2 separate regions of the Homo sapiens genome follow, and region 2 is linked to region 1. The links come from fine-mapping of genetic effects on gene expression. A gene starts in region 1. The other region holds a variant in brackets. All regions are shown on one strand. Distances are from middle to middle. Region 1 holds the start of INPP5K (inositol polyphosphate-5-phosphatase K). Region 2 holds the start of MYO1C (myosin IC).

Evidence for each region. PIP is the estimated chance that this variant, and not a neighbour inherited with it, causes the effect.
Region 2: its variant is fine-mapped to the expression of INPP5K in whole blood (INTERVAL, PIP above 0.99).

Annotation. Positions count from the first base shown.
Region 1 is chr17:1,508,926-1,524,087 of GRCh38, forward strand. It overlaps INPP5K (inositol polyphosphate-5-phosphatase K), which reads right to left and starts at 7,687. Exons shown (of 12, transcript NM_016532.4): 1 at 7,531-7,687; 2 at 4,947-5,054; 3 at 4,528-4,636; 4 at 758-874; 5 at 253-428. The coding sequence starts at 7,574. It overlaps PITPNA (phosphatidylinositol transfer protein alpha), which reads right to left. Exons shown (of 12, transcript NM_006224.4): 11 at 12,654-12,720; 12 at 8,793-11,613. The coding sequence ends at 12,676. It overlaps PITPNA-AS1 (PITPNA antisense RNA 1), which reads left to right and starts at 7,994. Exons shown (of 2, transcript NR_028514.1): 1 at 7,994-8,168; 2 at 8,793-9,171. RefSeq lists a silencer at 7,773-8,072.
Region 2 is chr17:1,486,468-1,501,629 of GRCh38, forward strand. It overlaps MYO1C (myosin IC), which reads right to left and starts at 6,219. Exons shown (of 32, transcript NM_001080779.2): 1 at 5,946-6,219. The coding sequence starts at 6,020. It overlaps INPP5K (inositol polyphosphate-5-phosphatase K), which reads right to left. Exons shown (of 12, transcript NM_016532.4): 8 at 11,469-11,655; 9 at 10,199-10,336; 10 at 9,852-9,935; 11 at 9,593-9,697; 12 at 8,110-9,412. The coding sequence ends at 9,356. LOC105371483 (a long non-coding RNA gene) reads left to right here and starts at 6,320. Exons shown (of 2, transcript XR_934145.4): 1 at 6,320-7,158; 2 at 7,483-8,227. RefSeq lists silencers at 949-1,108, 1,539-2,008, 4,555-4,994, 5,075-5,474 and an enhancer at 4,551-5,270. The variant A/G (reference allele first, on the strand shown) is at 7,995.

The DNA of each region.
Region 1 (15,162 bases):
TGCAGACCCAGGCTCACTCGTGGGGGTCAGCGTGGGGCAGAGGGCGGGGAACAGTCTGCAGACCCAGGCTCACTCGTGGCGGTCAGCGTGGGGCAGAGGGCGGGGAACAGTCTGCAGACCCAGGCTCACTCGTGGGGGTCAGCGTGGGGCAGAGGGCGGGGAGCGGTCTGCAGACCCAGGCTCACTCGTGGGGGTTAGTGGGGGTTAGCGTGGGGCAGAGGGCGGGGAACGGTCTGCCAGACCCAGGCTCACTCGTGGTCCAGGATGTTTGGGATGTCTCGCCCCTCACAATTCTGCATCTCCAGGATCCGGTCAAAGTGCTCCAGCCGCTGGTAATTGTTGGAAATGTGGGGAGGCAGGTGGCAGTTGATGATGCTGACATAGTAGCCATAAAGCTTCAGGCAGATGTTGACTCCACCTTTGTTCCCCTGGTAGAACAGGTCAACAGAAGAGTGGGAAGCTACTCGGGTTGGACACACCCCTCTTTCCACATCCTGGACCTGAGGGCAGACAGTCTCACTTCCTGCAGGGTCTCCTAGGGACAGTAACTAAGCTTCCCAGGGTGATCTCTCCATGCACAGAGCCCAGCTCGCCTCGCCTGGCCTCAGGGATAGCAAGCCCACTCTGAGGCAAAAGAACAAACATGCATTGGGCTGGACAGAGGACCAAGATTCCTTTCACTTCCTTTTTCTTTTGCCCAGCTCCACAGTTCCCAGCCCTTCCCAGCTCACGACTCAGACAATAGCTCAGTCCTTACCCAGTACCCAAACAGGCCAGTGGGGGTGGATTTAGTAGACAGAATCTGGATATAGGGCAAATGCTGATACTTGGCAAAGACCAGTAAGAGGATCCCCTGCATACGGACATGGGAGACCTGCAGGAGAGAGAGGGCAAAGGTCGCTCATTAAACCACACAGGCCAAGTGCATCCCTTCCAAGCTCCGTGCTAGGGACTCTAGAGAGCCCTCAGCTACATGCAGTGTCCTGCTCCAGGGTCTACGATATCCCAGTTTGAATCTCAGAGTTTCAAGCCTTTCCATTCTTCTTCTCAGCTGCCAAATGATACATTCTGGGGGCTGAGGTTTTCGATTCTGCGCCTAGGCGTGCGGGTGGCGGGAAGAGAAGATAAGCTAAGGATACTGGCTTTGAAGTTAGATCTGGGTTCAAACCCTGGCTCTGATTCTTAGTATTTGACATTGAGGCAGTTTCTCAGTGTATTTTCTCATTGATAAAGTAGGAATCCATCTCATAGATGCTGTGGGGATTATCTGAAAGCTATTATTTTTTGGTTTCAGCATTCTTTTTTTTTTGAGACGGAGTCTCGCTCTGTCGCCCAGGCTGGAGTGCAATGGCGTGGTCTCGGCTCACTGCAACCTCCACCTCCTGGGTTCAGGTGATTCTCCTGTCTCAGCTTCCCAAGTAGCTGGGATTACAGGCGCCCACCACCAGGTCTTGTATTTTTAGTAGAGATGGGGTTTCACCGTGTTGGCCAGGCTGGTCTTGAACTCTCGACCTCAGGTGATCTGCCTGCCTTGGCCTCTCAAAGTGCTGGGATTGTAGGCGTGAGCCACCGCGCCCGGCCAAGCATTCTTAAAAGGAAGGAACATAAGAGGTTTCCAGGATACTGGGAAATGCTCTTCTTTATCCCCTTCCCTTCCTCCCTCTCTCCTTGGAAATGTTCTTTATCCACCAGCTGCCCCCATTCCTCCCTTTTTACTTAGAGACAGGATTTCGCTCTGTCTACCAGGCTGGAGTGCAGTGGTGCAATCACGGCTCGCTGCAGCCTTGACATCCTGGGCTCAGGCAATCCTCCCACCTCAGCCTCCTGAGTAGCTAGGACCACAGGTGTGCACCAACATGCCCGGCTATTTTTGTTTGTTTTGTAGAGACAGGGTCTTGCCATATTGCCCAGGGTGGTCTTGAACTCCTGGGTTCAAGCAATCTCCCTGCCTCTATAATCCCAAAGTGCTGGGATTACAGGCATGAGCCACTGTACTCGGCCTGCTCTTTATCTAGATGTGGCTGATGGTAACATGGGTATATGCAAAAACCCATCAAAGTGTACACTGAATTTCTGCATGCTTTTCTGTGTACATTATAGCTCAGTGAAAAAAAAATAAGAAAATGCTCCCCCCAAACCCCATAACTATATACTGCGTGCAGCTGGGTGTCCATGAAGGCAACGCCCATGGAATGCCAGTGGGTAAGGACACATGTGCACAGGCTAGGGAGAATAGCTAACATCTGCTCAAGTGCCTCCTCTCTCATTTACTCCTGCCAAGCCTGTAAGGAATCACCGTCCCTGTTTTGTAGTTGAGGAACTAAGATTTAGGGAGGCTAAGGAACCAGTAGGGCTACCTGTATTGTAAAACAACATCAAAGGGCTAGGACTGCCAAGATCCCTACTATCTGCAGCTGCAAAAGGTGGGGTGGGAATGGGCCGCAGCCAGTAGCTCTCCCTCTCAGGTTCAGGCTGTCTACCACCGGCACCCGAGGAGCCGTTTCCGGAGAATGAAGTGTGGAGGCCAAGGAGGAAATCCCCGGGTGGGGAGCGTGTACTGGGGCCTTCCAGGAATTATGAAACTTGATCCTGCAGGCCACGAGCCCTGGCATAGCGGAGTCGAAGCAGGGGGAACCTCAAACCCAGCACTGGGTAAGGGAGGCATCAGAACTTCAGGTGGGCCAGAGGTTGCTACAGGTGTGTCCTCAAGCCTACTTCCTCCCCAGTCTTCTCTCTCCTACACCCAAGCACACGTGCCAACAGGGATGGAGGACGGGCTGGACCATGAGGGGCTGACTCCCAGGGTCAGGATTGAAGCAAGGGGACTGATAAAGACTCAGGAAAAGTTTCAGGCTTAATCCCCACCCACAAAGCAGCTTTAGGCCACTGGGTTCCACCACAAAGACACTGGCTCGCTTTGTGAAGGAGCAGCAGGGAAGTGGGGGCGGGGAGGGTGGGGTCGGGGCAGGACAGAGTTAGACTGGGAGAAAGGGTGGGGCTGTGGGAAAAGCAGGAGAGTTCTAGGGAAAGTTCTAGTTGGAGGAAATGAAGTAGGAGGAGCGAAGAAAGGACTAGCAGGAGGTGGCTGGGGGCCCTGGAGCAGTGGAAGGGGGTCAGCCCTTCTCAGTCTATAGCTGGCAAATGCACGGAGCTCACCCATCCACCCTGATTCTTGGCTGGGGAAAGAAGGGCATTCATTTTGGGTGCCAGGCCCTCAGTCTGGCCTCCCAATCTCAGTAGGCCACATGGGTAGAAAGGGCTGTGTCTCTGCCACAAGTTGAGCTAATTTCCTTGGCTCAATTCCATCCTACCAATCCTTTGCCAGTCAGCCGAGAAGCAAGGAGGCCTGCAGTCTTGGGAAGGGAGTGGCGGGTGAGAGAGAAGTGGTTGTGTCCTCTGTAAGGATCTAGCTCCCTATCTACAGAAGGAGGCCTCTGGGTTTGATGTGGAGGGAACCAAGGACTCGGGCTGGTGTTTTCTATCCTCAGCAGGAGTTCTAAACCTTAGATTCTTTCCTCCCCATTCTGCTCCCCCTCCAAAGGACACACAGCTCTTGCCTCAGTACCCCCAGGCAAACTAGGCTGACAGAATCCATTCTGAAGAACAAGAGTCATCCAGGAAGGGGAAAGAGGGAATTCTGGTATTTCTAAGCAGCTGTATACCAGGTGCTGTGAATGGGAGTGTGTTTCATTCCTCAGGTGTGCAGGGCAGAACCAAGGTGAAGGTGAAGATCTGGCAACCCAGGGCCTTCCTGTGGACTCTCCTACTGTCTAAAGACACCCCAGAGTATACTGGTCTCTCAGACTAAGAAAGCCGCCCAAAGTACCCACCACACCTGACTCCCCTCTCCTAACCTCTGGACCCCCAGAATCTGAAGTGCACGTCCCGTATGACCTGAGGATACCCTATGACACCAGCAGGCTAGCCACGCCTAAGATCTGTCAGTCTTAGAGTTCACCAGCATAGCAATAAGGTATTAGTAGTTAAGAACTTGGGTTATGAAGTTTGAGAGATCTGGATCCAAATCCCAGATAGCGCATGTGGCTTCTGAGCCATGGTTTTCTCTGTAAAATATCTCTATTTCAACAGACTTGTTAAGATTTTAAAATAACATATATACTATAAAGAGCTACTTATGATGTGTAACAACAAGTAAGCACTTGATAAATGACAGCCGTATGATTACACTCAGAGACTTCAGGATGGGCATTTGAGTAGAGACTGGTGGCTGGGGCAGCGGCCAGCACTGAGGTGATGACAAGCCCTGCTGCACCTCCCCTCAGAATCTTCCCAAGCTGAAACATATCCAGGTGTTAACCCAACCCCTGGAGACTCCAGCTCCCTCAGAAAGGCGAAGGCAGGCAGGGGCCCCGGGGTCCAGGTGGAAGGGAGGTTTAGCCCTTTAAACAAATGGGAAACAGCATGAAAGGCTGAGCAGGAGTAAGAGGAACACATCAGACCCAACAAGCAGGGGTCAGTGGAGATGTGAAAACACAGTTGTCAAGTGCCAATGAACTGGCAAGTTACCTTGATGAAGCTCAGAGGGGAAAGCACATCCATGAGGAAACTGCTCCACGAGTCATTAAAGGCAGCATCGGAAAGGAGGCTTATGATCCCAGAGTTCAATTCCTGCAAACTGACCATGCCAGCTCAGAGGCTTGGCCCCTGGCCTCCAGGCTACTTCCCCTGCCACAGATATTTGATACCATCTTCACGGACTTTCAAGGCCTGAGTTCTGATGGCCATGAGGTCTCCCTCCCCTGCCTGCTGATCTCCAGCCCCCTTTGCCGTTGCTGACCCGGGACCAGAGACATGGGACTGTCCCTGAAGCAGGCTGAAAGCTCCCAGCCTTCAGACTCCAGAGCGGAGGAGGGCAGGTCACAGTGCTTCCCACAGGGAAACCTGGGACTGGTCAGGGATGGGCGAAGGAGCCTGCAGATACCTACCCAATAACATATATGTCAAGATTGAGGTTCCGGTTGTTCAGCTGAAGCAGGTCACTGAGATCTAGAGGGGGCGCTGCCGAAGCCACGTTCCAAGTCACGACGTGTATGCTGCGGAAGGGATGCAGAGGGAAGTCATGGAGGAAGGAGGATAAGATAGTGCACGGGGTCGGCTGGGCGCAGAGGCTCACACGTTGTCATCACAGCACTTTGGGCGGCCGAGGTGGGCGGATCACCTGAGGTCGGGAGTTCGAGACAAGCCTGGCCAACATGGTGAAACCCCGTCTCTACTAAAAGTACAAAAATTAGCCCAGCATGGTGGCAGGCGCCTGTAATCCCAGCTACTCTGGAGGCTGAGGCAGGAGAATTGCTTGAACCCACGAGGCAGAGGTTGCAGTGAGCCGACATTGTGCCACTGCACTCCAGCCTGGGTGACAGAGTGAGACTCTGTCTCAAAAGAAAAAAAAAAAAGATAGTGCACGGGGTCTAGGCCTGCTTATGTCACTGCAATCTGCCACACTCATGATGGGAAATGTGGGTTTCTGTGCTGGTGGAGGGAATGGGGATACTGAACCATCAGCTGTCCGTCCTCACCTTTCTCTGCTGAAGCAAGAAATCCCCACCCCGGACTGGGTCCTCCATGCTGGCTCACAGCCACCCACACCCGGCAGCACTGGTGCTGCTGATATAGCAGAGTCGCCAAAGGGAGCCCAAGAATTTCAGGTCAGGCTAGCGAAGGGTTAGGGGGCTGAACTGCCAGGAATGTATTAATTCCATCAGCTCCTCCAGCCACCCACACCCCTCTGTCATCATCTATGGCTCAGTCGGCAACTTCTGATCCCTACTTCTCACCCCAAGTGTTCCTAAGACCACCAGGAAGATCCTAGGGATTCAGATTTCACCTTGTGATAGGCCTCAGCACTACAAGGGCAGAGGAATTTAAAAAATAAAAGAGATAACACCACCATATTCCCTTCCTCTCTCCTCCCTAGCAGATCCCTGGAGCAAGCCAATTTTGCCAAGCACTTCAGCGAGACTTTTTTTTTTTTTTTTTTTGAGACTGAGTCTCACTCTGTTGCCCAGGCTGGAGTGGACTGGGATGATCTCGGCTCATCGCAGCCTCCGCCTCCCAGGTTCCAGCAGTTCTCCTGCCTCAACCTCCCAAGTAGCTGGGATTACAGGTGTGTGCCACCACATCTGGCTAACTTTTGTATTTTTAGTAGAGACGGGGTTTCACCATGTTGGCCAGGCTGGTCCTGAACTCCTGATCTCTCAGGTGATCCGCCCGCCTCAGCCTCCCAAAGTGCTGGGATTACAGGCCTGAGCCACCGCGCCCGGCCAAGGAGTTTTTAAGTAACAGGTTTCTCGACATCTCTCTTAAGAGTCTATGCTCTATGTCTGCGTAGTATTCCGTGAAAAATAAAGAGTACTCTCTGGGGAAAAGTCATCAGTTGGATATTTTCCACCTCAGCTTACAAGTCTTAGGGAAGCAAGAAAACTAGATAAGGGGCCTCAATGACACTGGATCCAGTCAGAGGCTCAGGAAAGAGAGACCTACAGATGTCTTTAGTGGAACAGTCAGTCACAGCAGCTCTTCAAGAAGCCTCAGACTGTGCGGAGCACAGAGCGGGCAGGAGCTACAGACCCTGCAGAGACCAGGAACAGCCTAGCATGAGTCCTAGGCACACGATGAGGAGTACCTGCAGCAGCTGGAGATCTGGAATGGCAGAGGGTACAGGGGGATGGGAGAAAAGGGCAGTTAATGCCAAAACATCTCTCCTCCAACAGACCCCGTCCTTAGAGGTCGACGTTCTCAAAAGCACTTCAAGAAATTCTTGGCCAGTTTAAAGCAACTTCCTGTCCCTCCCTGTTAGCATAAACAACACTATACAGAAACCACCTTCCCAGGCACTCGGCCTGAGATTTTGAGCTTCATTTGTTTACGATCTCCCCCTGCTGTCCGACAGAGGCTTAAGGAACAAAGACCTTTTACTCAGAGACTTCTTTTCCCAGACTCACTCTAAGAGGATGGAGAGCAAAAGTCCGGATTTCTTGTTCCCACTCTCAAATCCGACGATTAGCAGCAAATCCAAGCATCGTGACTTAGACTAAGTGGGCGATTAGCGTTGTTCCCCGTGAAAGAGCAGGCAAGAGACCAGGCTAAGTCACTTCCCTAAAGGATCTTATCTCAATCTGATTTCGGATTCCCGGGGTTCACCATGGGATCAGGCAGACCTCCTGATGTATGTGCTGATGAAAAGTAGGAAAAAGATTTCTAACCGAGAGCCGAAGGGTGACGGCCTCGTTATGTCTTTAACCTCAAACAACCCCACACGGCTGTCCTCTCCAGAAAGCAACCGGGACACCTGCTGCGCCCCAGTGGGAACGAGCTTGGCGGCCTCGGCTTAGAGGGGGCGCGAGGCTCGGGCCCAACACAGCCCACCTGACACAGGCGTGGGAGAAGGCGAGAGCGCCTCTGAACCAAAGGCAGTCATGGAGGTCTGGTGCCTTGTCCACCCCCAGCCCGCAGCCCAAGGGGCGCCGATCCCCCCGAGCAGGCCTGCCTCTGCCGCCAGGGTGCCCTCACCTGAGCCTCCTGCCTTTCGGCCCGCTCAGCTTCCGCGAGCTCATGGCCGCCGTCGTCCCCGCGCGGTGGTCCGGCAGGTTCGCGTCTCCCGGCCAGCGGGTCCCGGCCAGAGCAGCCCTGCGGGCGGCCGGTCTCACGCGCCTAGCTGTCGCGGACTGTTTTTCTTCCGGACTCCGACCGTCCGCCCCGGCTTCCGTCAGAGACGCGCCCTCCGCGCACCCCGGGATCTGGGTGGTGCGGTTCGCAGAAGGAGGCGGGACTCTCCCACGAGCGCAAAGCTGCGAGAGGCTGAGCGAAGACGGGTTCGCGGACGTAAGAGGGGCGTGTCGGGCCTGTCATCAGCGCACGCGCAACACTGCCCCAGACGACGCGAGGTGTGCGGCCGCCACTAGACCCGGCCCAGCCCGCGCCCGCCGTCCGCAGCTCCCAGCGTGCCCCGCGCCAGGGGCCGTCTTCCGGCGGAAGTTGTCTCTTCGCCGCCGCCGCAGCCTCTGCCCCACTCGTGAGGGATCCGAGGGCTCCGTCCTTGTGCTGTCTTCGCCCCGGCTCCCAGGGGTCAAACGAGGGTCGGGGGTGGGGACACGCAGCCTAGCCACTGTCCTGCCTGGGATCCGGTCTCCCCCGCCCCCCGGCTGCAGGTAATCTCCCCATTCCTGCTACTGCGGGAGCGCCTCCGTTCTCCACGCCCACTTTCAGGCTTCTACTCCAAACTTATTGGATTACCTATTGCATATGGGACGTTTGGGGATTCCTGGACTCCTACAGAATTAGCCGTCAATAAATGAAACGTAGGCCGGGGCGCGGTGGCTCAATGCCTGTAATCCCAGCACTTTGGGAGGCCGAGGCGGGCGGCTCACTTGAGGTCAGGAGTTTAAGACCAGCCTGGCCTTAACATGGTGAAACCCCGTCTCTGCTAAAAACACAAAAGCTAGCTGGGCTTGATAGCGCGCGCCTGTTAATCCCAGCTACTCGGGAGGCTGAGGCAGGAGAATCGCCTGAACCCGGGAGGTGGAGGTTGCAGTGAGCCGAGATTGCGCCACTGCACCCCAGCCTGCGCGACAGAGCGAGACTTCGTTTCAAAAAAAAAAAATAATAATAATAATTAGCCGAGATGGGGTTTCGCCATGTTGGTCAGGCTGGTCTCGAACTCCTGACCTCAGCTGATCCACCCGCCTCGGCCTCCCAGAGTGCTGCGATTTCAGGTGTGAGCCACCGCGCCCGGCCTAAAACTACTTTAAATAAATGTTTTGCTTGTTTGGTAGGGTGGATAAAGAGGAAGATGTGAAGAGGAGGCAGACAAAAGCAAAAGGACATCCTGTCAGTAGGAAACGGCCGAATTACAATTCAGATGTGCAATGTTTGCATAAGTAAACTGACACGGGACTATTATATGCAGAAATCCACGTGCAAAAATTTTCAGACACACCTTTGTACCTCTTCCTAATCCTGCCCTGGTAAAATGGCGGTTATCAGTGCAAGTTTGAGGATACATACAGCTGGAAAATGGACATCACCAAACTGGACTCCAGAAAGTTCTGTCTAGGATTTTATTAGACTGCTTTTTTTCTCAATATACCTGTATTGGAAGATTGAGACAAAAAGGCACAAACTCACATTAAATAAACAAGGTAATCTAATCAATTCTACAAAGTGTAGTTTGTAAAACAAGTAGCACTAGGAACCAACCAAAGTAAGTCAGGGAGTCCCAGCAGGGACTGTAAAAGAACTTGGGAAGCTATACACATGCCCACGATACTGACCCTGTCCCGGACCTCTCTGCATGAGAAGGCCAGAGCCCAGCACCCCTCCTACAGAGGCACTGCTGCTTCTGTTGGGGCTGTGACCCTGGAATTCTGATGGAAGCAGCTGGTCTGAAGGGGCATGGCACACACTCAGGTACTACCCCTGGAGCTGAACCTTTATCATAAGTCCCTCTGAGTGCTAGTCAGTTTGGAGGTGGGTGAGGAGGAAAGGGGGTACTTAAAAGAAGCCAACACTGTTGCCCAGCAGCAACACCATCCGTGGGGATGGAACAGACCAGGGACATCCTCCTTTATGTTTATGTGGGCTGCAATTCCAGATCCAGGCTGACCTCAGCTCATAATGGATGCTTTTCAACTGGGGCAACAGGTGGAGGTGGGAGGAGCCCTTGTTAGGGCTAAAGTGATATGTGTGGGTCTCAAGAGCCAAAGGAAGGAGACTAACAGCTGCTGACCCTCAGACCACATAGACAACTGTCTGCCTAGAATGTCAGTTTGTTTCTTTCAAGATAACCCGCATCTGGACTTCCCCTAGTTGATGAATGAAGGAACATCTTTAAGCACAAATATAATGAATAGCTAACACAGAGCTTATAGGAAAACACTGACATTTTTCTCCAGTAGGAATGCCTCTTCTCCAACTTTCCAAGTCAGATAAATGCTACCAGCAGTTGAGATGCTACCCAGATGCATTACTAAAGACCCCTCAAGGTGAGGAGACTTACACAGAGGAAGGTGTCTGTAACAAGACATCTGGTTCCAAAGGGACCTCAATGAAGGTCAGCGCTAACCATGCTGGGGGTCTGAGTCTGTCCACCCTTGCCCCAGGAGGGCCACAGGGAAGCATCCATCAGGATGTCACAGGTGCAATCCTGTGAGACACTCCCTTATTGCACTTAGAAATGAGTAAGGCAAACAAACTGACAAAAACAGGATACATTCTCCCACCCACTTCTTGCTTCCCGGACAAAGATTTGGTCTCCCATTAGCAGATGCACCCAGGCTAGTGTGGGCTGGGATCACGGCACACTTAGGCCAACGTGCTTCACAAGGTTTGGGGAATGTCAGGTGACACTACAGCTCTCTCTCATTCTCCCACTAAGAGGCAAACTCAGGCTCTGTCAAGTTGCAGGAAGCTATGAACACTGGGCAGCGTCTGTTCCCCTGGAGCCTGGACTTCCTCACCAGCCTACTTTGGTCGGGTTCTGTACTATGATCACTACTTGCTTTGGGTTTTCCAGGGCAGAACTCAACATGGGGGTAGGACGAGCTAAGTTCTTGATCCCCAAATTCCTTTCCGGCAACTGGAGACGAGGGAACATGTTCTGCTGGAAAAAGCTTTTTGCATGCTCATATTGTGCAGCATGAAAGATCAGGACTCTTGCTTCCTAACCAGCCTCAAAGACAGAGGACAGGGACCTAAGAAAGCACAGAGAAAAGAGGATTATTGCTGAGTGGCAGCACCAGCCCCAAAGGGAAGAGGAGGAGCAGGGACTTACAGAGCTCCTCGGGGTCAGACAGTTGGTATCTAGGGGGTGACTCAATTCTAGGGGCCACACTGGACAATTCCCTCCAAGTGGAGAGTTGACTGGGGCGATTTTGTAGACTGCAGAGAGATTCAGAGCGGGCAACAGGAGGGCCAAGAAGCCACAGGTGTTTCTAAGAGTAGTAACTAGAGATTCAGTGATTGGGACAGGGTTACTCGTATTTGTTAAATTTTCTTAAATAGAGACTGGCTGAGCCTTGGGTACCTCCATAGTGCTAGAGTGCCCTAACGATGGGTTACTGGGAGCAGAAGTCAGAGCTGCAAAACCACATTGCTATTTTGTGGAAGCGGTGCGGGGCAGGGAAACATTGTATCTTTAGCTCATCCCCGCTCCCCACAGGAGCACTCAAAATTGCGAAGATCTTCCCAGGAAGCAAAATACCTCAGTTTACCCCAAGGTTGAGAACAAATGAACTTAAATCATTTAAATCACCACATCACAAAAGGCAGCTATTTGAAAGACTGAAAATGTCACTTGGAAATAAAGGTTGGGGGAACACACAGAAATGGATCGGAACACAATGGAGAGAGACGGAGGCGCTGTAACTACAGCAACCTACACGCCACGTATCTCGGAGGAGCAGGCTCCTGCACACGCGGGCTCTGTGACACCAGACGGTCTATTTGTTCACAATACTGAAGGGCATCTAGAATTAGCTACAGTAAGGAATCGAAAGTTGCCTGAAGAATGGGCACAGAACGGCTGCGTCCGAAAATGGCCTGTCACTTGGGAGGGTGGAGCTGCTGGGTCTTCCTGTTGACCACTGTCTTGCAAAACTAGAAGAAAAATGAAAGTATTAAGGAAGCAAGAGGAGAAAACAGAAACACTGTAAATCGTCCTGAATGGATAATTTCAAGAGGAGGAGGGAAGCCAGTGGGTGGGTGGGGAAGGGAGTGGGGGAGAGCACTGAGGCCCAGAGCAGTGACTGAGAAGCTGGCATCACAGCAGTCCGCCTCATTCCACCCTCCAGCCTCCCCGAGGCTGCTTTGGGAACATGGGGCAGGGAGAGTAAGCAGGGCCTGCCGTCACTCCTGGTGAGACCCTGGCCCTCCTTGCCCGTAGGGTTAGAGGCCAGCTTTTATTTGTAAAAATAATTTTCTCTCTGAGGCTAATTGGGAGCAGAGCCAGGTTTTTCATTCAGTGATTAAGACTGCTTTGAGCTGCTGGAATCCCATGACTCGGGTGGTGTACAGGGCACTGGGAAACCAGCACCGAGAGTTAACGGAAGGAGGGGGCTTGGGGAAAAGTGACAACATGAAACAAGGGGCCCCCAATCTGGCCCTGTGACCTGGGCAGAAACACCCTCCCAGCATCTGAAAGATGCCACCTCTGATGAGGGCAGCTTAGTATGGGATCGGGGGTATAAAGAAGGAAATGAAGCACCAGACAACAGTGGGTGCTAACAAAAGCTGTCTGGCCAGCAAGTTTTCCAAGGGGGAAGGGCAGGTAATGGCAGCTTTTGGGAGCTGGCGCTGGCGTGGGAAGGCCAGGGAGTGCCCAACATGACAGCTGCAACTTGAGATGGATCAAGCTGGCAGACAGGAGGAGTGATTCGCAGCAGATGAACTCCCCTTCTATATCCACCACCCCCTCCCTGTCCATTGTCTCTATCTGGGTGGTTCTTTGGAAAATGTCCCTGAAATGTCCCAAGGGCCATAATCTCCTAGTGGAAGTGGAGAGCTATCGAGCGTGGCAACCATCATTACTAGAGGGAAGGAGGAATAGGTTTTCTGACTCCATAGTGAGCTGCTGAGGCCTTGAAACCCAAACTGATTTTAGCGTCTGTGACACGCACAGTGAGAAATTTGGTACGTACAGTGCAGAGGGGAAAGGCGGCTTTAGTCATCTGCTGTCATTCCTTTCACTGGGTCCTTTTGTCTCATCTGGAACAAAAAAAGCAGGACAAATGGAAGGCTCCTGCTGCTGATGGAACTCCTGCCTTCTCAGTCCTGCCCATAGGTGGGGTGGGGCATATTTTGTGTAAAAAGCAAGACACTGGAAGGACGGAAGAATTCTGCATATGGACTCGAAGCCATACATTTCCAGATCTGTGTCACTGGTCTCACCATCCATGATTTCTAGTTCTCTCGTGTCACGGTGTTTGAAGCACCTTTTTTTTTTTTTTTTTTTTGGTAAAGAGGTGTGTGTGGGGGGGTCTTCCTATGTTGACCAGGCTGGTCTTGGGCTCCTGGCCTCACACGATCCTCTGCCTCAACCTCCCAAAGTGCTGGGATTACAGCATAGGTGTGAGCCACCACACTTGGCCCGTTTCATTCATTTATTCATTCAACAAATACTTATGAAACATCTTTTTTTTTTTGAGACGGAGTCTCGCTCTGCCGCCCAGGCCGGACTGCGGACTGCAGTGGCGCAATCTCGGCTCACTGCAAGCTCCGCTTCCCGGGTTCACGCCATTCTCCTGCCTCAGCCTCCCGAGTAGCTGGGACTACAGGCGCCCGCCACCGCGCCCGGCTAATTTTTTGTATTTTTAGTAGAGACGGGGTTTCACCTTGTTAGCCAGGATGGTCTCGATCTCCTGACCTCATGATCCACCCGCCTCGGCCTCCCAAAGTGCTGGGATTACAGGCGTGAGCCACCGCGCCTGGCCGAAACATCTTTTTTTGTGTGTGTGAGGAGTCTTGCTCTGTCGCCCAGGCTGGAGTGCAGTGGCGCAAAGTTGGCTTACTGCAACCTCTGCCTCCTGGATTCAAGCGATTGTCCTGCTTCAGCCTCCCAAGTAGCTGGGATTGCAGGTATGCACCATCACGCCCAGCTAATTTTTGTATTTTTAGGGGAGACGGGGTTTCACCATTTTGGCCAGGCTGATCTTGAACTCCTGACCTCAGATGATCTGCCTGCCTTGGCCTCCTGAAGTGCTTGGATTACAGGCGTGAGCCACCGCACCCAGCCTCAGTGAGGCATCTCTTTAGTGCTAGGGACTTCCAGAGGGCTGGGAATATTTAGCTGTGAACTAAACAGACCAGTTCTCTCCTCAAGGAGCTTATATTCTGGGGCAGGATGGGCAGAGAACAAACATTCATCTATGTCAGCTAGGACTGTGGGCTGCTCGGATACAGAATGACTGTGGGTAAGTGCTATTTTAGGTAGTTACAGAAGCTTGTATGTGAGGTTTGAGATGAAACCTGAGAGAAATGAGGGAGAAAATCCTGTGGCTCTCCGGGAGAGGAGTTCCCGGCAGAGTAACAGAACTTCCCTTTCCTGACCTGTTTAAAGGTGGGCACAATGTGGTGTCAGAACTAGGCACAAGGATGCAGAGGTGGAAAGTGCAGGTGCAGGTCTCAGATCCACAGATGTGCAAGGCTGCTGGAAAACAGGATGGGGGCTTCTGTGGAAGCACCAAGTGGTCCCTGTCACTGGCACCTTCCAGGCAGACATCACTGGGGATACTGTAGACGTCATCTCTCTAAAATCAGTTCTGATTTGAAAACTCCATTCTATGTGAAGAATGTCAATAAGTATTTCTTCACTATCCATTAGTTTTCTGCTCAACTTTTGTTCTTTATAATGTTCAACAAATTTTGAGCACCTAAGAGCATAGCTGCTAGAATGAAACTCCCTAGACTGTATTGTTTTGTTTGAGACAGGGTCTGGCTCTGTTGCCCAGGATGGAGTGCAGTGGCGCAATCATGGCTCACTACAGCCTCGACTCCCTGGCTCAAGTGATCCTCCTGCCTCAGCATCCCAAGAAGCTGGGACTACAGGCATGTGCCACCACGCCTGGCTTTTTTTTTTTTTTTTTTTGAGACACAGTCTCTCTCTCTGTCGCCAGGCTGGATGGCAGTGGTGTGATCTCGGCTCACTGCAATCTCTGCCTCCCGGGTTCAAGCAATTCCCCTGCCTCAGCCTCCCCAGTAGCTGGGACTATAGGCACACGCCACCATGCCTGGCTAATTTTTTTTTGTATTTTAATAGGGACGGGGTTTCACCATGTTGGTCAGGATGATCTCAATCTCCTAACCTCACGATCTGCCTGCCTCAGCCTCCCAAAGTGCTGGGATTACAGGCGTGAGCCACTGCACCCAGCCACCTGGCTGATTTTTTATTTTTTCGGTGTGTGTGGGGACAGGGTCTCATTGTATTGCCCAGGCTAGTCTCGAACCCCTGGACTTAAGTAGTCCTCCCGCCATGGCCTCCCAAAGTGCTGGGATTACAGGAATGAGCCACTGCACCTGGCCTGGATTGTATTCTGACTCCATCACTAATTGTATGACCTTGAGTAAGTTACTGCAATGCTCTCTAAGCCTCAGTTTTTTTCTTTTTTCTTTTTTTTTTTTTTTTTGAGACGGAGTCTCGCTCAGTCACCC
Region 2 (15,162 bases), 22 kb before region 1:
GGACACCCCACTCGCCTCTGGGCCCGGACCTCCTCCCTCCCTCCTTTTTTTTTCTGTTTTTTTTTTGAGACGGGGTCTTGCGCTGGCTCCCAGGTTGGAGTTCAGTGGCGCGATCTCGGCTCACTGCAACCTCTGCCTCCCGGGTTCTAGCGATTTTCCTGTCTCAGCCTCCCGAGTAGCTGGGATTACAGGCGTGCGCCACCACACTCGGCTAATTTTTGTATTTTTAGTAGAGACGGGGTTTTACCATGTTGGCCAAGCTGGTCTGGAACTCCTGACCTCAGGTGATCCACCCGCCTCGGCCTCCCAAAGTGCTGGGATTCCAGGCGTGAGCCATCGCGCCCGGCCCATCTCCCTCCCTGCTTTGAAGGGGGCCTCCCTAGTCCCTCCGGATCTCCGGGACGCCCCCCACCTCCGAAGCGGCCTCGGCAGAACCTCCCTCGCTTGGCTCTGCGGGCACCACCCTCCCTCGCCTGGGGCGAACCTTGGCTCAGATCCCACCGCGGGCAGGGGCGGGGACGTCTAGAGTCTGCAAAAGGCTGGGCTGGTTCTTCCTCGCGGTGGGACTCTGAGCAAGTCACTTAACGTTTCGGCTTCTGTTCTTCATCCCTAACATGAGGCTAACACAGGCCTAGAAGGGCCGTTGGGTGGCCTGAGATAGAGCGTGAAGGCACCTCCAGACCCCCTATAGACCTCGCTGCCCCCACCCGCCGCCTTCCCTCGGCCGGACGCTCATTTCTCACTTGCTTGCGGGCAGAGGCCTACTGAGAGCCAGGCCGTGGGCCACGCTTCCGATCCGGTGGGGAGAGCCTCAGGCGCGTCTGCAGGCACCTGCCTCCTCCACCAACACAACGGCGTACACAGACTCGCCCTGGTGGGGTTAGGCAGAGCGGGAACCCAAAGCCCCAGCGCCCCACCCCCAGCTCGCGGACCCCGCTCCCTGGGGAGAGGGCGAGGCTGCGGCAGGTGCGGGCCGGATCCTTGCGGGGAAGGCTCGTCACTGCAACAACCCGGCCGGAGCGGCGGCCCTGGGGACCCCCGAGCGGGGGCACCAGCTGGTGGGGGAGTGGGAGCGGGGGAGGGGGAATGGCGGCGTCTCGGACAGAGGCGGGGGAGGGCGGGAGGAGACGCCCGCTGCGGTGCCCCCAGGTTTAAAATCTAGAGGGAGGGCCGGGCGCGGTGGCTCACGCCTGTAATCCCAGCGCTTTCGGAGGCCGAGGCGGGCGGATCATCAGAGTTCAGGAGTTCGAGACCAGCCTGACCAGCATGGCGAAACCCCCTCTCTGCTAGAAAATACAAAAATTAGCTGAGCGTGGTGGTGGGCGCCTGTGTAATCCCAGCTGCTCGGGAGGCTGAGGCACGAGAATCGCTTGAACCCGGGAGACGGAGGTTGCAGTGAGCCGAGATTGTGCCACTGCACTCCAGCCTGGGCGACAGAGCGAAGCTCCGTCTCCAAACAAAACAGAACAAGGAAAATCTAGAGGGAGCAAGGAGGCGACCCAGCCTCCAGCCCGCCCAGGGGTGGGGAACGTCCTAGAAGACGGGGTAGAGGGTCAAGAGAGCCCCTCCCGGAAGCTCAGCTCTCTCCCTGCCCCGCGAGGCGTGGGGGACTCGGGCCGGGGGCGTGGCAGGAGCCAGCGGGGGCGCGGCCAGAGGACGGGGCGGAGCTTCGCGGCCGCAGTGTCCGCCCCGCCCCTCCACGTCACGCGGTTGGAATGAGGGGAATCCGCGCGCGGAGGGGTCGGGCCCGCTTCTTCCAGTTCCCGGGCCGCGCCGCCGCATTCCCGGGATGCCCGCTGGCGCCCCCGCAGCCACCGCCCGGCGGCGGAAGGAGGGGGCGTCTCCGCCGCTCGCGGGCCCCAGGGCGGCTCCAGCACTGGCAACCCCCGGCCTGCCCCTCCTCACTGGACGGAAGCGCGAGCCCCGGGCGGGGAGGGAAGCGGGGAACCTGGGTGGGAAAGACGCCGCGGCTGAGGCTGCAGCGCCAGGCGCCTCCTGCGTTCTCCGCGCTTTCTTGGGTTACTCCTTTCAGTGACGCCAGCCAAGCCGTGAGGTCCGTATCATCACTCCAATGCAGAAGAACTTGAGGCTGGGCAGGTGACTTGTGCAAGGTCTCAGGAGGAGTGGGACTGGAACCCGGGCACTGGAACACCTTACTGCAGGGCTGCCCTGAGCCTCTTTGTGCGGTTATCAGGGCTACCAGGGCTGTGACCTTCAGTGACACCGTTCAGGCCCCTGTCGGTGTCGTGTGATTCTATTATGTCACATGTGGGCTTTAGGAGTGGGCCAGGGCCTTTGGCTCTGGGCCTAGAGGTTCCCTGCAGGCCATGGCCCCTGAGTGACATAGGAGACTTCTTCCCCAAGGCTGCCTCTGGGTCTTCTCCCACCTGGGGAGGCATTTACTGGAACCACAGGGGATGGGGTGGCCCAGCAGACCTGGGCTATCTAGTGCCCTTCAGCTCCTATAGGCCAGGTGCCTACAAGCCTGACTTCTGCGGACAGCGGAAAGCTCAAATGTTCCCCCAGCCTAAGGGCACACAGATCTTGCCATGGGGTAGGGGTGTTGGGGGCTGGGAGGAGGTGTCATCTGAGGCACCCGGGACTGCTGCTATAAACCGATGTCCACTGAGCCCAAGGCAGCAGAAAGGCAGCCACAGCTTGTCTCACGGGTGGCACAGAGCAGGGCTTCAACTTCTGTTTATTAAACAAATCTTAGATCTGGGCCTGGCTGCCCACCAAGGACCGTTCCAGACCTCAGGGAATTGTTGTGAAGGGAAATGGGGAGGAGATAGTGGCGACTTAGGGTCTCTACCCTGATTGCTCACAGGGCCTTGGTCAAGGACTGTCCATTCTAGCTACACAACCATGGATCTTTGGCTGCCAGACACCTCTGCCTGGGGGGTCCAGCAAACGTGAACAGAGGCAAGGTGCAGTGAGTGGCTCACACCTGTAACCCCAGAACTTTGAGAGGCCGAGGTGGGAGGATCGCTTGAGGCCAGGAGTTCAAGACCAGCCTGGGCCACATAGTGGTGAGACCCCTGCCTCCACTAAAATTTTTTTAAAAAGTTAGCCAGGCATGGTGTGTGCCTGTGGTCCCAGCTACTTGGAAGGCTAAGGTGGGAGGATTGCTTGAGCCCAAGAGGTTGAGGCTGCAGTGAGCTGTGATGGTGCTACTGCACTCCAGCCTGGGTACCCCAGAAGACCCAGTGTCAAACAAACAAAGAAACAAAGCAATAAACCCATAACATGTTAACATAAATTTGTATGGGGGAAAAAAAAAAGTAAACGGCCCAGGAGCGGTGGCTCATGCCTGTAATCCCAGCACTTTGGGAGGCCAAGGCAGGCAAGATCACTTGAGGTCAGGAGTTCCAGACCAGCCTGGCCCACATGGTGAAACCCTGTTTCAACTAAAAATACAAAAAATTAGCAGGGTGTGGTGGCACACGCTTGTAATCCCAGCTACTTGGGAGGCTGAGACAGGAGAACTGCTTGAATCCTGGAGGAAGAGGTTGCAGAGAGCTGAGATCATGCCACTGCACTCCAGACTGAGTGACAGAGACACTGTCTCAAAAAAAAAAAAAAAAAAAGAGGGCCTTTGACCCCTAACCTGTACTCCCTGTTTAATGTCCTTGTAGAGAGAAGGGTGGCACTGTTTGAGCTGGTCATCACAGCCTGGCATTAACAGGCCTGCTCTCCTGCCTCCACTCCTCACACCAAGTAGTCACGACCTGCTAAAACCTCACCTCCAGGCCGGGCGCGGTGGCTCAGGCCTGTAATCCCAGCACTTTGGTAGGCCTAGGCAGGTGGATCACAAGGTCAGGAGATTGAGACCATCCTGGCTAACACGGTGAAACCCCGTCTCTACTAAAAAAAAAAAAAAATTAGCTGGGCGCGGTGGCACACACCTGTAATCCCAGCTACTCAGGAGGCTGAGGCAGGAGAATAGCTTGAACCCGGCAGGTGGAGGTTGCAGTGAGCAGAGGTCGCACCACTGCATTCCATCCTGGGCAACAGAGCGAGACTCCATCTCAAAACAAAACAAAACAACAACAAAAACAAACAAAAACCTCACCTCCATCACTGCTCCTTACCTGGGCCAAGACAGCAGCCTAACTGGCCTCCTTGCCTTCCTCCTACCAATCCATTTCCTCTGGGGCAACACAAATCAAATCAACACCTCATGTTCATAGAGTGAAGGTTTAGGACACCCTCCATATGCCAGGCCCATGATTCACACTCACTGCTGCTTACCAGGACCCTGCCTATGAACTCCCGAGACCCCCCTGCTGTCCCCAGTTTACCCCACTGCTCCTGCATTCCGATGTGCCAGATGGCCCGCTCCAGTCCCCTCTCCCCCCACCCCTCCCCCCAGGAGGGGGCCTTCGCACCGTCGCCAGCCAGTCCAAGCTTCAGTGCCTGCACCTGCGGCTTCCCCAGCCCGGGGCACTCTCCCTGCCCACCTCACTGAGACTCGGCTCAGGTGTCACCTCCTCCAGAACCCCTTCCTGATTCTCCCAAACACGCAGCGCCTCCTTATCGCACCCCGCAGGAATCAGCTGTTTCCTTGTCAGTCCCTCCCAGGAGACGGCTCCCACTCCCTACACGCAGCGAGGCACACGGTGGGGCTCAGTCACCCCTTCCCGGACCCCTGGATGAATGAATGAATCTCAGAGCCAGGCGTGTGCGCGGGAGGCCGGAGCGTGAGGACTGAGGGCCGCGTGGCCATCCTCCTTCTCCGGCCACCCCGGAGCCCCCCGCCCGTCACACTCGGGGCGCGCTGGGCCCCAGGGGCGGAGAACGGGAAGGGGCGGGTTTAGGCGGCTTCTCCGGAACCCAGAGGCGGAGCAGGGCTGCGGGCGGGGCCCGAAGGGCGCGCAGGGTCCTGGGTCCTGCAGCCCAGGCCGCTCTTCCCCGCCTCCCGCTCCCCGCAGGTAAATCTAAGTCTCCACCAGGCTGCGCCGGCGCCTCCGGGTCGTGGGACCCCCCCCCCCCGCACGGGTCCACGCGGCCGTTCTTCGGCCCCAGCGATCCCCGGCCGTGACCCCTGCCTCGTGCACGGCGGCTCCCGGCCCGGCCGCCCGCTCCCCACACCCGCCCCCCGCGGCCGCCGTCCCCGCGCCCCGAGTACCCACCGGCGTGGCTCTTCCGGCGCGGGCGGGGCCGGGCTGGGCGGCGTGGCGGGCTTGGGGATCCGCGGCCCGGGCGCACTCTCCCCGCCCAGGGCCCGCCGGGGGCCGGGCCGCAGCCTGTCGTCATCCCGGGCAGGGCCGCGCACCCTCCGGCCCCGCCCCGCCCCGCCTCAGCCCCGGCCGCGTCCGCGAAGCCTCGGTGCGTGCGGCCCCCGCCTCGGCCCGTTCCCGGGGCCACAGCGAACACGCGCGCGCCCCTCCGGCCGAAGACCCGGCTCCCCGCCGCGCTGCTGGGGGCGTGGGGGCGCCCGACTTTCTCCCTCCTCCGGGCCCTTTGCATCTCCAGCCCCTTCCTGCGGGCCGGGCCAGGGCCGCGCTCCCCCGTTTCTACCCACCCGTGACCCTTCACCCACCTCCCACACCGTCCTTCTGTTCTGAGTCTTGGGCGGTCCCAGCCCTGCGGACTGGAGAGGAGCGGGGCGTTGACTGAGCCTGGAGCTTCCATGCCCTGGTCCTTCGACCTCACAGCAGCCGGCACTTGCCTTTTGTGCCCAGTATTCACGGTTCTGCCCACTGAGGTTCGGGAAGCCGGGGAAGAGTCAAGCCCAGACCTCCACTTCCAAAAATCCTGCTGCTAGTGGCCCTTGCATCCTTACTCTTCCACTCACCCCGTCTTGTTCAGTCTGTTCTGGCCCCGCCAAGGATCGGAACCCCTCCCCGCTGCTCAGCTCTTGCCCGAGGGCTCGCCTGAGAGGGGCTGCCCGGCCTTGGGGAGACGCTCCCACCCTCCTCCCAGCCCAGAGCATCCCAGCTTACAAGCTTGCAGGGCCTGTGGGGATGAACCACGCGGATGATCTCCCCGGTGGGTACCAGCTCCACTTGCAGCGCCATTCCGCCCTGCGGAGAGCCAGCGGCCTGGGCACCGCGGCCTGTGAGCAAGAGCTGCCTGCCCACTGGCGGGCTCCGACCACTCCGGGACCAGGAACCTACGGTCTAACGCCGGGATGGCCACTTGGTTCTGCTTCAACTGCAGCCCCAGGGGATGTGGCTGGTCCAGCTCCTCAGGACACGGCTGGAGCCGTCCAGGTCTGACTGGGAGGCCTCTTGGCCCGGATGGTTGGAGCAGGAAGAGGAGGGGCTGGGGATGGAGGAAATGCCTGTTGTCCCAGGTAACCAGAGGAGCCGATGCAGCCACCCATGGGGGACCCTGGGCTCCAGGTCAAAGGCTAGGACGCCTTTCCCCTTCCCCCCATCCCCACGGCAGCTCTATGGCTGGGCCCCTCCTCCTGCCCACTCTCTGGTACCACCTAGAGAGCACGGGGCCCACTCCCCAAACCAGACGGCATGCCCTCCCCTAGGCCAAGAGGACCCGTTAGTAGGCACTGGCTTTCCTGCACATCCCCTCAACGGGGCTGCCCCCCACAGCAGGTGAGCCCCCACCATGAGTTTGAGAGACCAGGGCTGCTGGGGCCTGGTCATGCAGGGCCCGGACAGGGGGCTGTCCCGCTGTGAGGAAGCTCTTGGCTTACCCTCCTCTGAGCCTCAGAGCTTGTGAGGTTAGTTCCTGGGTTCCCTGGGTGTGGGCAACCTCTAGCCCTGTTCATCCCTTGCGTTTCAACAGTACCCCCAGGTGACCCCCACCCCTGATGTTCCTGCTTTTCTATTTTTATTGTTGCTAAATCACAGCTGACACTTTCCTGGCCTGAGACTGAGCCCTCCAGTCTCCAGCCATTCCTTATAGGAAGTAAGAACAGGGAAGTGGATAGGGGAAACAGACCTTTCCAGAGGGAGAGGCTGGCATAGGAAGGGCTGAGTCCCGTGGGTGTGTGCTGGCACCGACAGCCCCATAGGCAGGGGCCTTCCCCCCGGCACCCTTCTCTCTCCCCACAGCTTCCCCCGCCCCGGAAAAGCTAGCAAGCCTTCCTTCCTTCCTCCGGGAAGCACATCTATCCAGAGCAGGCTCATCCCCGGCGGCCACACAATGGCCCTTATCAGCCGTGGAGCCAGGCGTAGACCCAGTGCACACCAGGTCTCACTTATTTCCTGTTTCCACCCAGTGGGTCGGGGTGGACCCAGAACGGCCATATCCTGACTGGGGCCCAGAGGACGGAGAGCACCCCCCATTCCCCTTTCCGCCTCTCAATCACTGCTGGGCTCACCCCTCCCACACAGGAGGCTGGGTGTGTGGCGACCTCAGTTCACCACGGGGGAGGTGAGCATGTGGGGGGACCCCTGGGGTCAAGCCCCGGGGCCGCATTAATCAGAACGGGGAGGCGGGTCTAGTGCGATACACTTTCTGCAATTGTTCTCCCACAGTAATCTTGAGAATAGGGACATCATCTGTATTTTACAGACTACTGAGACCGCTCTGCGGGTGGGTTCAGACCCCATTCCTGTTTCTGGTCCTGTGGGAAACCACAGGTGCCTGGAACTTTGAAGAGACTGTACCACTTCTCTGAGCCTTGGCTTTCCCATCTGCCCAATGAAGGGTGCCATGCAGTAACCCTCGTGATGGCTGTGCATGTGAGAAGGAACAGGTGGGCAAGTGAGGGCTTTGGAGGTCCCTAGGTATATGTGTTGGGGGCAGGGATAGGTTACCATGGGGGAAAACTCAGCAAGAAGGGGCTGAGGAGAAGTGGGGCAGAAAGAGAAGATGGTGGCATTCTGGACTGGTTAACGCAGGCAGAAGGCTCAACACCAGGGTATGCAGAGCAGCGGGTCAGGAGGGATGAACAAGAGCTCATTTGACTTAACAGAGTACATTAAGCGGCCACCGGCATAGATGGCATGCTCCACCTGGTTAGGGCCCCAGAGGCTCACCATTCTAGAACCTCATCCTAGCCCCAGTCCTGGCCACTTCTGCAA[A/G]TCTCAGACACAGAAGTCTAGTTGGGATCTACAGGGTCCCTGTTCCTGGAATCTACAGCTAGTCCCAGGCCCATCACCGTACCCCCACCCCCCAATCATCAGTCACACGCAAGTGTAAAAGCCACGCTAATAATTACCCCTGCACAATGTAACAGTCACAAAACAGCCAGCCATGGCCTGCTGGAAGCCAGGGGACAATTCTTCATACACAGGCTTGCGGGGGAGAGTATGCAACACAGAGCAACTGGAGTAACCCTCAGTCCCAGGACACAGGATGGCAGGACAAGCACTGAGCAGGCTCCCAGAGGTGTCTTCTCCTGGGAAAAGGGCTGCCGAGTGACCATGGCGGAGGCAAGTGCTGGATGTGGGGACAGGCCATGTCCCCAAAGCCCCTAGAGGGTGTTCTCTGAAGAACCCCAGGGCCAGATCCTCCAAAATGTCTTGAGCTGGTTCTCCCTTCTGCCTGCCCCCACTCTGAGGTCCCGGGGGGTCCAGGGGGGGCCCGTCGTCAATGGCTCCTGACAAGGGTGGCACAGACGCACCTCACCTGCCAAGGACCACCCTGGAAAAGTCTGTGGCCACAGCTCCTTGACCACTTGTCACCCCTTCCTCAGATGGCAGGGTGGAGGCATGGGACTCAAGCTACCAACGGAAGCGAACCTGGATCCTTCCCAGTTCTCTCTGTCAGGATCTGGAACTTCCATGCAGTCAGACTCCATGCCGTGAGTAGGGAGGAAGGTTGTGCTGGCCGAAGGACCCTCATCAACCTGCTCATAACCATGGCGTAAGAGCCTGGCTAGAGGGGCCCCTCCATTCTGCCCACTGAGTCAGACTGCTTTTGCTGAAAGCAGAAATCCCAGACCCTCTGCTCACTCCTCACGGGGACAAGCTATGAGATGCCAAGACTCCTGGAATCCAGCACTGCTTGCACCAGTCTATGTAGCCTGTACAAATGTGAGCATCTCCCCTCCCAGACAGCCTGAGGCCCAGGACGGCACGACAAGAATGCAGGCCTGTGCCAAATGGGGCATGTGCCTGGCAGGACTACTTGGGCAAGACTAGAAGAGGGGGTAGGAATCCAGAAATGAGACGCAGAACTGTCCCCAGGTCTTCACTGTTGACACACTAGCTGGTTTCACTCACATCTCAGCAACAAAAACCTGTATTTAAGCGGCTAATTCCAGAGATGAGTAGTGGAGAGAGCAAATGAGCCTGGTTAGAGCTCACTCTGGGAGGAGTATGTGGACGACACTTGGCTGTCTCTTCAGGGGGCCAGGCTGGGCCCCCAGCACTCCCGGCAGTGGAAAGGCAGAGCTGGCTGCCAGCTCTGGCCTCCGCCTGGGATTCACTCCCATCCTGGCTCAGATCTGTGGCTGTGCTTCACCCAGTGGGTCCTCCCTCAAGGAGCCAGGCGGGATCTGCAGGGATAAAGCAGGTGGTGGAAATGGAGAGCGGGTCTTCCTCCGTGCTTTCCATCACCCCCGTTCCTGCACTGCAGCGGCCCCTCATGTACCGGCTGGCTCCCAGGCCTGGGCCTCAGGGAGCCAGTGATGAGCTCAAGCCCTCACCCTTCCCCTTCCCTCACCAGCACTGCTTACCTGGAAGGGTCTGCTTATCCCCACCACAGAACGCAGACTGTTGCTGTAGTAACAGAGGAGAAACTCATCTTCAGTGGTAGGGATATTGCTGATGTCGATGTAAACCTGGAGGGGGATGGACAGGACTGGGGTCAGCTCCAGGGCTCTGGGCTCCACCCAGCTCTGAGTGACAAGTTATTCAGCACTCTGTTCCTTCCACAAGACAGGAGTGCTGAGGCAGGCCTGCCTGCTGGTGATGTACCTGGTGCTGGTGACGTACCTGGTTCAGGTTGTCGCTGCAGGAGACCTTGCTGTCCCCGACCCAGGCATAGGACACGTAGTCATTAACGTCCCGCAGCCCCACCTGTGAGGGGGAGTCAGGCCATCAGTGGTCAGGGAGGACATGGGACCTAAGGCAAGTCCTAAGGAAGAGATGGTCTCCCTGCTGGGCCTGGCTACCGTACTGTGTGCCTCCCCGCCGCCCTTCACTGCCAGCCTTTAGCTACAGAAGAACCGCTGGGGTGGATGAGGGTGAGTTCGTCAGCATCTGCCCAGCTCCCAGGAGCCCTCGGGAAGGATGAACCAGGGGCTGTCGCTGATGGACTTCCTGCCTTGCCACCACATCACCTTGTACAGTCCAATCCAGTCCCACGGGCTGCTGGGGAAGTCCGAGGTTGAAGAGTAGCTGACCATCATGTCATTTTCCACGGTCCACAGGTCCTCGGGCATCAGGACGATCAGCGGAGCAGACACCAATGGCTTCAGCTAGACACGGGGGTGGGAAGGGGGCTGAATCTCGCAGCATCATTCCCTCCTCTGAGGCCAAGTGTTCCTCACTGTGCCCTTCCAACATAGTGGGGAAGGTGGGGCACCCAGAGGGGGTGGGCATGGAACTCCACTGGGCTGCTCCAACGGACCTTGGCTGGCCATCAGGAAAGAGGGCCGAACACCAGTCGGCGGGTGGCTGGCCCTGTCGGAATCCCATGGGGCCCAGCGCTGGGGGGTAGGAATGGCGGAGAGCAGAGGCACGGCTGAGAGGCTTAAGGAGGCGGCCAGGCAGCTGCTCTCAGGCCTCCCGCCTTATCTGACCCAAAGCCCCACATGGGGGGATGCTCTGGTGAGAACAGCTGTGAACGTGCAAGAACACAACGCAGATACCAGCGGGGGCCAGGCACGGTGGCTCACACCCATAATCCCAACAGTTTGGGAGGATCACTTGAGCCCAGGAGTTCGAGACTAGCCTGGGCAACATAGTGAAACCCTGTGTCTACAAAAAATACATAACAGCCAGGCGTGGTGGCGTGCACCTGTAGTCCCGCTACTAGGGAGGCTGAGGTGGAAGGATCAATCACTTGAGCCCAGGAGGTGGAGGCTTCAGTGAGCTATGATACCGCCACTGCACTCCAGCCTGGGCGGCAGAACGAGACCCTAACACACACACACACACGCCAGTAAACCTGTATGAAAACGTGAAGGCTGAGGGGCAGCAGCCTGAAGGAGGCCAACACCACCTTGGTCATTCAGATAGCAAGATACAAGGACGCAGGGATGGAGGGAGCGCCCGTTGCAACTTGATCCAGATAGATTTAGGACAAATAAAAGAAGTCCTACTTCTCACATTGGGTAATAAGCCTAATGGAACTCATTAGCCCCAAGGGAGAATACCCAAAGGAAATGGAAACCTTTTCACAAAGGGTTTGAACACGGTTTTGACAGACAGAGCCATCAACGGCTCCTAAGAGGAGCTGGGATATCCGACCTGGCAGGAAAGGCAATCATGGCCTCCACAGGTCTCCCCTGGGGGACTGGCTGACATTCGAATCCAGGGATGGAGGGCTTGGGGATGTGGCCAGCATAGCTATTCCTCTGGCAAGTATCAGGCAGCCCAGAAGTTCACCTCCAAGTCGAACGTGCCGGAGACAGGCTTGTGGTCGCTGATGCCGTACGTCATGTGGCTGCTGTAGCCCCTCAGAGACAAGGAGAAGTGTGACGCCGGCGGTATGGGAGTGTCGGGGCCAGCACAGGGCTGCCGCTTCAGCCTCCACAGGATGCGATCGGTCCATGCAGGCTTGCGTTTTTTCTCACTGCAGGGGCAGGGGGCATAAAGAGGAAGAATGGGGAAAGAAGAAAGGGTTGGCTAAGAGCAGAAATGAGCCCACATGAGCTTGCTGGAGCCCCTAACTCCAGCAACTACTGGCAGCCACAGACCCCCGGGGCCAGAGCCGGAGGGAGCAAGGCAGCAGGCAGGAAGGTGCCTAACAGAATCCAAAGTATGCCAGCACTTGTCAGACTTAGCCAGGACCCTCTGTATGTCTAGCTCATGTTTTTATGGATCAAATTGTGACTCAGAAACATTCCATTTCAAAGCTTTGCTTCTTTCTTGAGCAAAAGCAGCAGTGGATCAAAGCAGCTGAGGTTTGAGATTCTGAGGCTGGACACACCTGAGCTTGTATTTGGCTGCCCTGCATACTAGAAGTATGCCTCAGGAAAGGGAAGGGAAGCATTTAGGAAATGCTTACCAGAGGATGCCTGTGATCAGTACTGTTACCACACCTTTTTTTAAATTTAATTTTATTTTTTTAAAGAGACAGGGTCTTGCTCTGTCATGCAGGCTGGAGTGCAGTGGTGACATCACAGCTTACTGTAGCCTCAAACTACTGGGCTCAGGCGATCCCACCTCAGCCTCCTGAGTGGCTGGGACGGTAAGTGCGTGGCACTATGCCTGGCTAATTTTTAAACATTTTTTTGTAAAGACAGTATGTTTCCCAGCCTAGTTTTGAACTGCTGGCCTCAAAGGATCTTCCCATCTCAGCTTCCCAAAGTGTTGGGATTAGAAGGCATGGACCACTGTGCCTGGGTGTATCATGCTCTCTTTACAGGTGGAGAAACTGAGACTTAGCTTAGAGGGGAAGCACCTTTCCCAAAGTCACAAGGTACTAAGTGGTGGAGCCAGGATTCAGGGCCAGCCAGCATGACCACAGAGCATGTGCTCTTAACCACCAAACTAAACTAACCTCTCTCAGGCCTCAACTTCCTCGCCTGCCAGTGGAGGGAATAACAGTAGTTACCATGAAGGGTTGCTAGGATGAGTCAATGAGATAAAGTACATAAAATGTTTAGCACAGTGCTTGGTGCAAAACGAGCTCGCCATGCACACTGGCCTTTATGATTTCCTCTCAAGAGTCGACTGAGAGGCCGCGCGCGGTGCTCACGCCTGTAATCCAAGCACTTTGGGAGGCCAGGGTGGGTGGATCATGAGGTCAGGAGATCGAGACCATCCTGACTCTCTACTAAAAGTACAAACATTAGCCAGGCATGGTGGCAGGTGCCTGTAATCCCAGCTACTCGGGAGGCTGAGGCAAGATAATTGCTTGAAGCTGGCAGGCGGAGGTTGCAGTGAGCTGAGATCATACCACGGCACTCTAGCCTGGGCGACAGAGCAAGACTCTATCTCCAAAAAAAAAGGAGTCGACTGAGAGACCTCCCACCTGTTCTTCACTTGCCAGTTTCCCTGAGGGGTTTGGAAAAGGTAATACGCTCCGGAGACAAAATGCATTCCTCCTCTAGGTAACTGAAGTTGACCAAAGACGAGTCTCTGACCCATAACCCAGCCTTCCGAAGCAACTACTGTGGCAGTTTCTAAGGCCACCTTGTCCTTGAGGCCCTGCCCTCCTGGAGACCAGCAGCTCTGACTCCTGGAGGTGGGGTGTGTGTGTGGCGGGGGAGCAGGACAGCTGCGGTTTCTGGGTTCCACCCCCTTCATGGACAATCTCCTTTCTTGAATCAACCCAGAGTAATAAAGCCTAATTGGATCAATCAATCAATCAATCTATAGACAGGGTCTCACACACTCTATCTCATCTATTGATCGATCGACAGGTCTCACTGTGTTGAATCCTATCTACCTACCTATTGATTGATCAATCCATCGACAGGGTCTTGCTGTGTTGCCCAGGCTGAGTGCGGTGGCACAATCCTAACTCACTGCAGCTTCAAATGCCTGGGCTTCAAGCAACCCCCCACCTCCGCCTCCTGACCAGCTGGGACCACAGGCATGTGCCAGGGCACCCGGCTATTTTAGAACCTTTAAGGCATCTTCACTGCCTCCAGAATAAAGTTAAAGTCCCCAAGTAGGGCTTTCAAGGGGCTCAGGAGTCTGACCACCCCATCCTTCATCTCACACCACTTCCCCAGACCCACTCCACCTTGGTGACTCTCTCAAGCCTCTGGACCTTTGCTTTTGCAGTATTTGCTGCCTGGAACACCTTTCTTCACCAGGGAGAGGCCTTTGCCGAAACCATCCCAGACATTAGCTTTTTGCTTCCAAAGTTTTTTTTTTTTTTTGAGACGGAGTCTCGCTCTGTTGCCCAGGCTGGAGTGCACTGGCGCAATCTCGGCTCACTGCAAGCTCCGCCTCCCAGGTTCATGCAATTCTCCTGCCTCAGCCTCCAGAATAGCTGGGATTACAGGCGCCTGCCACCATGCCTGGCTAACTTTTTTGTATTTTTAGTAGAGACGGGGTTTCACCGCATTAGCCAGGATGGTCTTGATCTCCTGACCTCGTGATCTGCTCGCCTTGGCCTCCCAAAGTGCTGGATTACAGGCGTGAGCCACCGCGCCCGGCCACTGAAACATTTTATACCAGTATTATACGATTACACTACATTGCAATTTTCTGTTTCCCACTCAGCATGTCACTTAGGTGTAAGCCCTGAAGGCAAGGACTTAGCTGTTGGAGTGTCCTGTGTATCCTCAGCATTAGCACAGATCCTGGCACACAGGTACTCAATAACCAGGTACACTTACTAAAAACCCAAGCTGAAGCTCGTCCCTCAAAAATGTCCGTCTAATCTTAATGTTTACAGCTCCATATACTCGCAGTTGGAAACACTATTTTTGTCTCCTTCTTTATTCAACTGCTTTTTTTTTTTTTTTTTTTTAAGACGGAGTCTCGCTATCGCCCAGGCTGGAGTGCAGTGGCGCAATCTCAGCTCACTGCAACCTCTGCCTCCCGGGTTCAAGCGATTCTCCTGCCTCAGCCTCCCAAGTAGCTGGGATTATAGGCGTTGAGCCACCATGCCCAGCTAATTTTTGTATTTTTAGTAGAGACTGGGTTTCACCATGCTGGCCAGGCTGGTCTTGAACTCCTGACCTTGTGATCCGCCCGCCTCGGCCTCCCAAAGTGCTGGGATTATAGGCGTGAGCCACCGTGCCTGGCCTATTCAACTGCTATTTTAAATAAATGTTCCCAATGTACTGGTGTCCCTTCAACAGTAAAAGAGTAAGTATTCTAGCAACTGAGGAGAATGGCGTTACAGTGGTGAGCTCAGACTTTTGAATCAGAGACCAGTTGGGGGAAGGGTCCGTCCTGTTAATTGAGAGCTGTATGCCCCTGGGCAAGTGACTTCATTTCTCTAAGCCTCAGTTTCTTCAGCTGTTAAGACGGGGTGATAACAGTACTTACTTCAAAGAGCAGTAATGAAATTAAAGGGCGTCAAGGGGGTGGTCACGAAGCGGTAACTTTGACTAACCCTGGTCTGCCTGTTGGCTCCTTGGGTCATTTCCAATCTTTCACTCTTCTAAGGAGTGTT